Linked DNA regions of Homo sapiens. The protein of the gene in region 3 interacts with the protein of the main gene of each other region in a pairwise test. Each region holds a gene or a part of one and is shown on either strand. Other genes may lie near its edges.

Evidence for each region.
Region 1: the proteins of CASS4 (region 3) and ATOSA interact in a two-hybrid assay, tested with the Homo sapiens proteins (one large-scale study listed by IntAct).
Region 2: the proteins of CASS4 (region 3) and ELMO1 interact in a two-hybrid assay, tested with the Homo sapiens proteins (one large-scale study listed by IntAct).

The regions. Positions count from the first base shown.
Region 1 is NC_000015.10:52,676,565-52,680,815, reverse strand, and holds the start of ATOSA (atos homolog protein A), read left to right. Parts: upstream 1-1,427; 5' UTR 1,428-1,988; intron 1,989-2,058; exon of another isoform or gene 2,059-2,505; intron 2,506-2,693; 5' UTR 2,694-2,794; coding exon 2,795-2,810; intron 2,811-4,251. UniProt on the Homo sapiens protein: Transcription regulator that syncronizes transcriptional and translational programs to promote macrophage invasion of tissues.
Region 2 is NC_000007.14:37,211,294-37,214,941, reverse strand, and holds part of ELMO1 (engulfment and cell motility protein 1), read left to right. Parts: intron 1-1,484; coding exon 1,485-1,607; intron 1,608-3,424; coding exon 3,425-3,556; intron 3,557-3,648. UniProt on the Homo sapiens protein: Involved in cytoskeletal rearrangements required for phagocytosis of apoptotic cells and cell motility. Acts in association with DOCK1 and CRK. Was initially proposed to be required in complex with DOCK1 to activate Rac Rho small GTPases.
Region 3 is NC_000020.11:56,415,181-56,418,828, forward strand, and holds part of CASS4 (cas scaffolding protein family member 4), read left to right. Parts: intron 1-3,648. UniProt on the Homo sapiens protein: Docking protein that plays a role in tyrosine kinase-based signaling related to cell adhesion and cell spreading. Regulates PTK2/FAK1 activity, focal adhesion integrity, and cell spreading.

The DNA.
Region 1 (4,251 bases), on a different chromosome or scaffold from region 3:
AAGTCAAATCCACTGGGATTTAACATTTGTAGCATTTTATAGATTAAAGAACTGTTTCCATTTGTCAGTTTCATCGTCATGATGCCAGAACATTTCAGAGAAAATGAAATGTTACCCTCCTGAATGTTCTCTCCGCTCTGATTAGATACAATCGTGGAGTTAAGGTTAACAATTTCAGTTGTACATGTTATTTTACTGTACATATCTAAGCACTAGAAAATGTTACTTTTTAAATATTTCATGCCTTTTTCATAAGAACTTTACCTGAGGCCAAAAAAATGGAACTGCCAATCTTGCAGTTTATAAAACTCTTCTGATGTGAAAATAATAGACTCATTGTAAAAAAAATTTTAAAACAGAAGGGCACAAATAAAAAAAATCCCCTTAGACTTGTCCTAATACTTTCCTGTGATCCTTTTATGCAAAATTATATCTAAAAAAAAAACTTTTTCTAATGAAACCAAAGAGCCTTGCAAATTTTTACTTGTCTCCATTTGGGCTCATGCCCCATATGTACTTTGTCTATAGACTGAGTAGCTAATAGCTGCAGCGCTTGTTAGGATTGGGTTTTTTTTTAAGTACAGCAGATTCCTGTCATCTGTTTGTGTTTAAATGACGACAACATCACAACATGAAATGCCATCATGTCACATTGCTATAGCACAACAACAAAATTACAGCTCCCCAACAATAACATGCTGTCAAAGTGTCCTCCTGCCCATGAGTCAGTGTTTTAGAAGTTATGAAGATTATTTTTAGCACAGCGAGTGTCTTGGAAGCTTGGGTTCTGAATCCTACTAAAATCCTTAGTGATTTGGGAAAATCTAGGGTGGGGGTGGGCTTCCTGTTCTTAAATTCTCCCACTCCCTGACCCGCATAGCTGCCCACCCCCCGTCCCGGTCACATTAAACCCGGGTTCCATTATGCGCTGCAATCCACTTGGGGCTCGATCACAACTCTGTGCCAGCATCCCGGGAGGAGGAGGAGGAGGAGGAGGAGGGGGGGAAGGAGGGGGAGGGGGGAGGAGGAGGAGGAGGAGGAGGAGGAGGAGGAGGAGGAGACGACGACTATAATTATCCTCCACGTCTGGGGCAGGCCTTTGGATGACATCTCCCCAGTTACCCTGCGCTCTAATAGCGCAGCTCCGATTCCTGGTCTCAGAATCCAGGCGCGCCTCTGCCGGCTGGGAGCGCAACCGAAGTGCCTGGGACGTCTCGGGCTTCCGGGACTCTGCTGGTGTCTCCCAGCCGCCATCTCCAGCGCCCTCGCACCCGCCGGGCACCTGCACCGAAAACCCGGCCCCAAACTAGCGCCCCGGGGCGAGCGGCGGCATTGCCATAGTAACCGGGCGCCAGGGCCGCGGAGGCCGCCGGGGAGGAAGTGACGACCGGGGTGGGTTGGCTGTTGTTGGGACACGTGACCTAGGCAGTGTTTTGACAGGGCAAACAGCAGAGAAAGAACTGGCCGAGCGAGGGGGACGGGGAGCCGGGGCGCCAGAGCTAGAGACAGCGGGCGGGCAAGGAGCTGGCAGAGGCGCTGGGCAAGAGGGCCGGCCGGGGCTACGGGCGGGGGAAGCCCGGGGGTCGCGGGGCTCGGGTGCCAGTCAGGCAGGGCGGAGGGGCTGAGCGCAGGGAGCGGAGCGAGGCGGTGGCTGAGGCGCGGGTGGATGGCCACAGGGGCGCCGGGGAGCCGCTTCGGGCTGGTCGTCTCGGGTCCCCACGGTCACCTGAGGCAGCCGCGGGGGCCGCTGCGCTCCATACTCCGCTCCCGCTGGCCCTGCGCCTCTCGGAGCCTGGGGTCTGAGGTGGGAGTGTGATGTGAGCTGCTGGGCGAGCGGTGGAGAGAAGTGCCAAGAGGAGGCGGGATTGGGACGGGAGAGGAGAGCGAGTTAGTCAGCAGAGGTCGGCCGAGGGAGCGGAGGAGCCGGCCAGCTCGAGAGCGCCATGAAAACAACTCTCCAGCGGGGAGAGGGGCAGACGCGGCGCTCGGTGCGGCGGGGCTGAAGGAAATCCGGGGCCGCGGCGGGACGGAAGGGGTTGTGCAGAGCAGGGGGCGAGCACAGGCTGTAAACACCTCCCCCGGAGCCGGCCGCGGAGGACTGGTTGGGAGTTGGTAGGGTCGCCCCGGGACAGCCCGGAAGAGTTCGTTTGGGGCTGGGGGCTGGGCGGGAGGAGGTGACTCGGGTTTCTGTGTAAACTTGGCCGCGGTTGCCGCAGGAAGGCTAGCCAGAGGGTAATTACACAGGTGAGGCCCGGCGGGGCGGGCGGAGGGCTCGGGAGGCGCAGGGGACTGGAAGAGTTGGCTGCGCCCAGGCACCAGGTGGAAGAATTTCCATACCAGCCCTGCGGAGGTGCCTCTGTTTCCAGAGGCGTTTTTGTACGAAGGGGTTAGTTTGTGTTGCTCAAATCTTTTTCTTCTTCTTGCCTGTACCTCCAGGTTATAAATAGATCCTGTTTTGGTTCAGAGACTGTGTCAGAAGGACACATTGGCCTGGAGAGCACAGAGGCAGGGAAGGGGGTGCTCGATCCGGAGGAGATGGGGGAGGCGGTGCAGAGAGTTTTGCTTTTTTCAGACCAGCCGAGGGTGCTGTCACCGCAGTTGGTGCCAGGAAGAGGCCTAACTTAACAGTAGTTTACTTGCAAGGTCCGGGTATTAGAATAGGGCCAGATTAATTTTATTTTTGTCTCTTTCAGCATTTTGAAAGCGAAGCAGAAGCCGTAGAATCAGCGGCGAGCCTGTTGAAAGAACCCACAGGTGCATTTCACAGCACTCTGGGCGAAAATTGGATGTGAAAATGAAGCCAGACCGAGGTAAATGATTTGTTTAAGTAGGGCTTGTTCCCCCACCCCCTTCTTTTCTATGCCTCAATTTAGAAGTGTTAACCTAATTCTGCAGTAGGATCAACTATTTCTGTATCATATGTGATTATCTGTTTTTGTGACAGATTCCAGCTGGTGAGGTAGAGAAAGGCATATGGAAGAGAAGGTTAAGCGTTTTTACAAAAGTGCTTCTGAAGCACTAGCTTCAAGAGAGATTCTAGTGTATCTCAAAATGAAAGTAAAGAATGGTATTTGTATCTGTTGCCACAATACAGGTATCATTTTAGAGTTGTACTTGCTCGTTTTTAGGTAGTCAATCTAACTTCAACTTTCAAGAAGTTCATAAGCTTTTTAAACTTGAATGTGAACTTGATAAAATGAAGAGAAAACTTAAGCTTGAGTTGACAACTGTTATTTTATTACTACTTTGATTAGTTGATTTTTGTGCTTTAAGCAAACTCCAAAAGTTTGCAGAGTACTCCAGTATTCAATATACCAGCATATGGACAGTTTGGGCCACTGAAATCCCTGGTGATAAGTAAATGTCACTTCTTTTCTAAACCTGTATTTTCAGGATTTATAAGAATAATATATACACTGCTTTTCAAGGACTTCAAGGTAATTCTTTATCAGTCTTCTGATTAATGGCAAGAACCAATTTTAGAAGATGTTAATATAGTAGTGGTTAGTAGTGAGAGCTTTTCAGTCAGATATGAGTTTGATTCCAAGGAACATTGTGAAGTGGGGATTATTTTATTTGGTAGGGGGCTGGACTAGATGACAGATTTCCTTCCAAATCCAAGTCTTTAGGATTGGAAATGTTAATTTATCCTACGAATTAGATGCTTATTTTAAAATTTATATATATTAAACTGGTTGTTTTTCCATATATTTTTTCAAAGTGATTAGACAAATTTTCTGGGTAAAATAGGTCTATTGAAATGCACCAGAAGGAATTGGAGAAAACCATACTTAATTTAGTGATTTAAATTAGTTTTAGGTGTTGGCTATTACATACAATCAGGCAGCAGCTATGTATGTATCAAGTATTAGTAAGTGTATTGCTCCTGAGCAGGTTCCTTGTGTAGAATGCCAAGTTTAGATTTTTAGATTACATCAATCACTTTGGAAAAATGGCACCAAGGTTAGTAATTGATTCTCAGAATAAACAAGCAAATAAAATCAAAGTCACTATTTATTTTGAATTGTTGTGAAAAGTTGCTTTACAGTCATAAGCAGTTTTAAAAATAGTATTTGCAGCCAAAACTAGTGTTAAACACAATAAAATGTTTAGTTACGTACTGATATAGATTTTTAGGGGAAACAAATTTATTCATCAAGATTTCCAAAGAAGTTTTCACCTTAAAAATTGTAGCTTTCTTTAGCATTCTCAGGTAAAGATGATGGGATTGTGAGTTTAGTATTGTGATTA
Region 2 (3,648 bases), on a different chromosome or scaffold from region 3:
TTAGAATGCCCTGAGATATGAGTGGCATTAATGACTGTGTTCACCCTGTCTCAAAAATCAGTTTGCTTCAGTGGGACTTCTTGTATGAGATGTTGTTGATGGCTGAAGTTCGAGGTTGGTACTCTCCTGCAAGAACTTGGAGTGCAGTACTTTCGAGTTGCTAAGAAAAGAGATTCCCATACGCTTTGGATACTAAGTGTGTGCCATGAGTTAACATGCTTTTCTGAGGATTGGAGGATAAGGGGTTTGATTTGCTCCTAACCATCCGTTATCTAGCTTCCCTGCTTCCCATAATTTTGGTTTGGTGACTGTATTCTCTCATTCCTCCCTGTCCTCTTTCTTCTATTCCTCAATCTTCTCCCACCCCTCCTCCTTGAATTAGCTATTTCAGCATGGCACTGACAGCTATGGTGTGGATTGCAGGTGGATGTCAGGTTGAGAGTCACCCAGGCAGCACTCTAAGGACCTAGACTTCCTCCAATCCTGGAGGAAGATCATTTTTCTCTACAATGGGGAGCTTTGTCATTTACTGAACGGCCACTTAGAAGTTGGTTTGCAGCAGTCTGTCTACCCAGGAGCAACTACAGATTGCCAAGAGAATTGGTCTTTCAGATAACATGGCATGAGTGGGGCTAGCACAGTTGAAATAACTGATTTGATGGGTTGTTCCACCACATTGATCCATTGTTTGGCATTTTTAATGTACAGTCAGAATCTCTGTTGAAAAGGCTGTATGTTAGTCCCAAATGCTGAATGTTGAGTTGGTGGCAGCTGTCCCATTTCTGGGCAGGGGTGAGGGGATTGGGGGTGGACCTATCCAGTCTTCCTGTCCTGCCACTCCTTGTATGTTCTCTTTTCAGTTCTGTTTCTATGGGGAAAAGTCATTTTATCTTTCATTTAATTGTTAACAGTGAGTAAAGTAATTCACGAGCATTTGCTCTCTGCTTTTGATGGTAGACATCCTTGTGTAGCTCCCACAGTGGATTAAGATTTGATGGGTATTTTGCTTTTGTGTGTTCCTTCTAAAACTTTTCCCCATTTTGAAGTGGGCTCACCTGTCAGAGACAGTCCCAGGGTAAGATAATGGCAAAATTGCTTCCTATGGGTATGCATCATTGGTTTTTCTGCTGCGTGTGACAGATGCTTCCATTGTAGAAATCCACAGTTGTCTTGGAGACACCCCCATTTCAAGCACATCTTCTCTTGACTTATATGGCTGCCATCATCAGTCCCTTTCCAGCGCTTTTCCCCTTCCACTCCCTCCTGCCCACAGTAGGTTTTTTCATGGCCTGTGACCTGAAGATCAGGAACCTTACTGGGCTCTGAAATTCAAAGGAAAGCTCTGAAATTCCCTGTGCCCTCACCTTCCTTCTCCATTCCTTATACCTCCCAGTGAAGACTGTGAGAGCCTTCTTGAGTGTTAATTCTAGTTGTTTCCTTTTCTTTCTTTTTTAAAAAATTTCATTTGTGAACCATCTCCCTAGCATGTCATCCGAGCCCAGCGGGCCATCAACAATGAGATGGCGCACCAGCTGTATGTTCTACAAGTGCTCACCTTTAACCTCCTGGAAGACAGGATGATGACCAAAATGGACCCCCAGGACCAGGTGAGTGCTCATTGGACAGCAGTCAAAGCACAGGAAGGACAGAAAGTGTCATTAAAAGTCTTTTCTTGAGGTACCCTGAAACTAGGGAGTTTCAGAGTTTGATATGATGTCATTTTATTATCATCTCAGAACTTAGGGGCATGGCTTCAAAATTAGGTGAATCTAGGATCAGAAAATATACCAAATGCATTCTTCCATTAGGCTCCAAACATGCATGTTCTTTCTGCATTTATTGAATAAGAAAGTTTGATGTCACATGACCACAGACTTTAGCTCCTGGCCCCAAGTAACATTTAATAGTAGTAGCTTTGGAGTCAAGTTCCCAGACAACTAGGGCCTCTTGGTGACTCTATGTGGCATTGATTCTGTGGGGTTGAGTTAGCAATTTTCGTTCTCCAGGGATCAGTGCCAAGAGCAGGGTCCCAGATTAAACCTGATTTCTGGGCCAGCATTTCTGTCGGTTGGCTGTTGGCTGTAACTCTCTGCTGGGTCTCTTGTTGTGCATGAAAGGTTATAGCTCCATTCAGAAGGCTTTGGGGACCTTTGCTGTGTGAGGGTAGAGTGAGAGGAAACAGCTGGGAGCCCTGCCGTAGCACATTTTCAACTTAAACAGCGCTGCAGCTTTGGAAAGGAAAACACTCATTATTGGCACGTGAGGGCCTGATCTGTTGCAGATGTGAACTGCATATGTGAAGTGTGTAGCTGCCGTGGCACTTCATTCATGGAGCAAGGCCATACGGTTAAGAATGATGGAGAGGCTTTGAGAGGCGGTGAATGTGCCCCACGTTTTTGGCAAGGTGTGGTCATCCCAGGGAGAGGAGACTGTCATCTTACCACTTCTAGTGGCAGAGAGCAATGCCTCTTAATATTGAATGACATGACGCTCTTTGCTTGGAAACCCTTTTAAAAATTTATTTATGTATTTTATTGTGGTGGGATATGTATAACAGAAAGTTTACTATTTTAACCATTCTTAAGTGTACAGTCTAGTGGCATTAAGTACATTCACATTGTTAGGAAACTGTCACCACCATCTATCTCCAGAACTCTTTTTATCTTGCAGAACTGAAACTCTGTACCCATTAAACACTAACTCCCCATTCCCCTGTCCTCTTAGTCCCTGGTAACCACCATTCTAGTTTCTGTCTATGAATTTGACTACTCCAGGGACCTCATATAATTGAAATTGGACAATATGCATATTTCTGTGTCTGGTTTATTTCACTCAGCATAATATCTTCAAAGCTCATCCAGATTGTAGCATCTACTGGGATTGCCCTCTTTCAAAGCCTGGATAGTATCCCATTGTATGTCCACACCACATTTTGTTCATCCATTTACCCTTGGATGGACACTTGGGTTGTTTGCACCTTTGACCCTTTCTTTCTTTTTTGTCCTGTGTTGGTTTCCATGAAGTAACTTAGTGGGGTGAGGCACTTTGGGTGCTTCTTACTTTGTTCCCAACTGTACAGTATCCCCAGTTTCTCTAGCTTAGCTTTCTCCAATCACGACCCTTCCATCATATCTGGGCCTCTCAGTTAAGACTGCACTGGACTATCAATATTCGTGCTCCAGATAACTACTTGGCTAAGAGGACCACTGTGGAATACAGCCAGGCCTGACCAGCAGGGAGACTGACGGGGGAAGAGTGGTCTGCAAAGCCCTAACTTAGAACATTGGTTCTCTTTTATCTGTTTTTCTTTTGCCTGAATGCAGTGATTCATTTAGACCCCAGGGAAAGAGGGAGTATATGTAATGTCACACAATGAAAGCAGCTTTTTCCCCTCCCTTTTCTTTTTACTCCCTGATTCCTTCAGGCTCAGAGGGACATCATATTTGAACTTCGAAGAATTGCTTTTGATGCTGAGTCTGAACCTAACAACAGCAGTGGCAGCATGGAGAAACGCAAGTCCATGTACACGCGAGATTATAAGAAGCTTGGGTTCATTGTAAGTAAGCTATCTCCAGTATGCGCTCTCCCTCCAGCCTCCCCGGGCCTGACCTCAGCCACATAACTGATGTCTCTTCCGAGCGTGTGGTC
Region 3 (3,648 bases):
TTGCAGGCCAAATACAATCTCTGTTGCATATGGTTGTTTGTTTATGCAGTCCTTAAGATATGTACAGTCATTCTTCACTTATGGGTCATCCATCTAGATTTGGTCCACAGGCCCTTGTGTAGCAGCCTATGTCATCTCAGTTTACGTAGGCCACCCCCACCCACCCACGCAGTACCAGGAAACACCCAAGTTGTCGACACCTAGTTCAGAGGCATCCTCAGTTAACTGTTTCTTGGGTGTCCCTACAGAAACTATCAATGCATCTATAAGATACATGTTTTAAGGTTTTACACAAATAGGAGCTGTAAGTAAAGATCTGTTGAGCTTCTTGCCTTTAGCAACTACCAATACGTACTGGTGTTCAGTTCATATTAGTGCAGTTGATCCATCTCATTAATCTTAATGCCTACATTGTTGCTCAATTGCTTTATAAATGGTAGCACAATGCTTCAAGGGGTCATGTCATGTCAGTGGTCCTTAGCTTTGGGGCATTCGCCTTTAAAACAACCCTGCCTTTCATTCAGGGCCACCGCAGATAGCCTTTCAGACCCTGAAGTTCGCCTTTGTACATCGTATGGTAAACAGGGACTGTTCTCGCAAGCTGTTCCTAATTCTACCTGCTGGCCAGTAGCTCCGTTGCCAGTAGAGCTGCTTTCACCTTTGTGCATGGCAGATTTTGTGTAATATCCAGACTGATTTATTCTATTTTTTAAAAATTGTTTTATAGAACAAGGCGAAATTTTTTTAAAACACGTGATATTAGTGATAGGAAACACTGGCCTCAAAGGTGGTAAATTTAACACCTCATTCATTGGTTTGTGGAACTCTAGCCAACTAGTCAACTCCATTCAAGAAATACTAGAAATTTAGTTTTCGTGGGTTTTTTTGAGGTGGAGTTTCACTCTGTCGTCCAGGCTGGAGTGCAGTGGCATGATCTTGGCTCACTGCAACCTCCACCTCCCAGGTTAAAGCAATTCTCCTGCCTCAGCCTCCCAAGTAGCTGGGATTACAGGCATGTGCCACCATGCTCAGCTAATTTCTGTATTTTTAGTAGAGACGGGTTTTCACCATATTGGCCAGGCTGGTCTCGAACTCCTGACCTCAAGTTATCTGCCTGTCTCAGCCTCCCAAAGTGCTGGGATTACAGGCGTGAGCCACTGCGCCCAGCCAGAAATTTAGTTCTAAAAGAACTAAAATTGTCTAAAAGACAAGGAGGATAAGTGGGCTTATTATACGTAAGTTCTTATTTTGGATTTTTGGTAGTTTCAAGATGCCTTAGTTACGAAAATAGAGTCTGCAATGTACTTTAGTGATTCAGTCCTGTTTGCTATAAATTCTGTTTACTTCCGTGTGTGTGTGTGTGTGTGTGTGTGTGTGTATGCACACATGCCATTACAGGTAATATTGAAATTAGCATCTTCATACACAGCCCTTTTTTCCCCAATAACATGATTTTCTCACTGGAGTAAATGTCCAGGAATTGAAAGAGGATTTTACTGAATGAAATAAGCTTTGGCACTTATTTTCCATCATTTTCTGAGAATTTCTGATATTTGATTCTATTTTAAACCTACTTTCCCCAGTATTTTCTCTACAATCTGTACTTTCTTTTATAAAGACAGCTATGTGCTCATTCAGTTTTCTGAAGGCATTTTTCAAGCAAGCATCTTTACTATGTTACTGAAGAGTGGATGGTCCAATATTTATACTGTAAGAACATTTAAATGTGATTATCTTTCACATTTTAAATTCAGCCTCAATTAAAGAGCAAATCTTTTTTGTCTCTCTCCCATCTCAACTCTGAGTGGCATGGTTTTGGACCCACTCAAGAAGGATCAAGGTAAAAATGTAGAATTTTTTAAAAAATCTTCCACATCTCAAGGTTGGTTTAAACACGACAAAATGTGTTGGCTTGGAAGTGTGTACCACTTGCTGGGACTTGGCTTGCTTCAGTGCTTCTGGGCAAGAAAGCCTGGTGAGGCTTCGTTTGTGAGTGGAGAGCAGTTTTAGGTTCTCTTTGTACCTTTAGCAGCTCTGAGGTGGTGAGCAAGACATTTCAAACTCAGTCTTTGTTGAAGGGCAAATGGGATTGTGTGCAGAAAGCTGACCTGGCCCTTCAGGGCCCATTAGATCCCACTCCGAGCAGCTCTCCTGCCTCAGTTCCTTCCCCTTCTCCCCTGCTGTTCCCCGCCTTGGATTCTTCTCTCTCTAGCAAGCATCGCCTCACCCAGAGGCCTCTCTGGACCACGCTGTGCAAATCACTTCCCCCCTACACAGGCCCACCGCCAACACTCTCATCTATCTTACCTTCACTTATTAAGATCTGAAATTATCTCACTTTGTTTGTTCCTCTGTCTTCCTCTCTGGGAACGAAACTCCATGAGGGACAGACCTGGGCTTTCTTACTCAGTGCTGCATCTCCGGTGCCTACAACAGTGCCTGCACAAAGTAGTTGCTCAATACATGCTTTGTGGTAGTGTGTGAACGAATGGGAGCTTACAGGGAGTGCAGGTGGAGCCCTGGCTGCAGCCCCGCTGTGAGGATAGGAACAGCACTACTTTCTAGTCAGCAGGTGTTTGGCAACGGAGGTCATTCCTGACTCTCAGCTCTCTAACCCCTACCTGGCGTCAGCCTAAGCTGCCACTCAGCCTGTTCTCTTGACAATTGTCCCCCTCCTTGTCCATGGTCAGATGTTGCCTTAGATGCAAGCTGTTGCTATTGAAATCAAGGTCACAAAGACCTGTAGCCTCCCTCCAGCATTTCCCAGCAACTTCCTCCCTTCATCTATTCCACGAGGCAAAACAGCCCAGACACAACACCCAACTCGAAAACACAGCTCACCATCCATGCCTCAGCCATTCACCCAATGCATAGTTATTGGGCTCCGGGGGTTCAGGGTGATCAAGACAGAGCTGACATTCCAATGGAGTGAGCATGACAGTGAGTAAATAGACCCATGGTTTCAGGTGGTGAGAACTGCCAGAAAGAGGAGAAAACAGGGGGATCTGATGGAGGCGATGGATGGAAAAGGCCACTCTGAACACCCAAGAGATGGGAAAAGCTTTCCAGGAAGAGGGAACAGCAGATGCCAAGGGCCTGCAGTGGGAAGGTATTCAGCATAGTACAGGGCCCCTGTAAAGACCCATGGGGTCAAAGAAGAGTAAACCAAGAGAGAGAGGGGTCAGAAGTGAGATCTGAGGTGTAAGCAGGATAACATAGGGCCTGGTCGGCCGTGTAAGAGCTTTGAAGCCATTCTAATTGCAAAGGAAACCACCAGCCCACTTAAAGCAGGAGATGACATGATCTAATTTATGTTTTCTAGATCACTCAGGCTGCTGTGCAACAGATGGGCTGTAAGTAGGAAAGAGCAAAAGCTGGTAAACGTGGAGACTTCAGTGTAGGTGGCTTCATTTTCCACTGGGGTGGTACCCTGCTCTTCTCCATGGACACGAAGGAGAATCGTGTACTCTGTCTTTAAAAAAGTAGAACTTTTGATGTTTGAGACCGCTGGTCGCCGTGTCGGGTGGGGAGTGGTTGTGAGCAGAAAAAATAGTAAATCAAGGAGTAGATAGCTTCTATTTATGTGTGTTACGTTTGATTCAGGAACACAATGTACCTTTCATTCCGTCAACAAATATTGAATGCCTG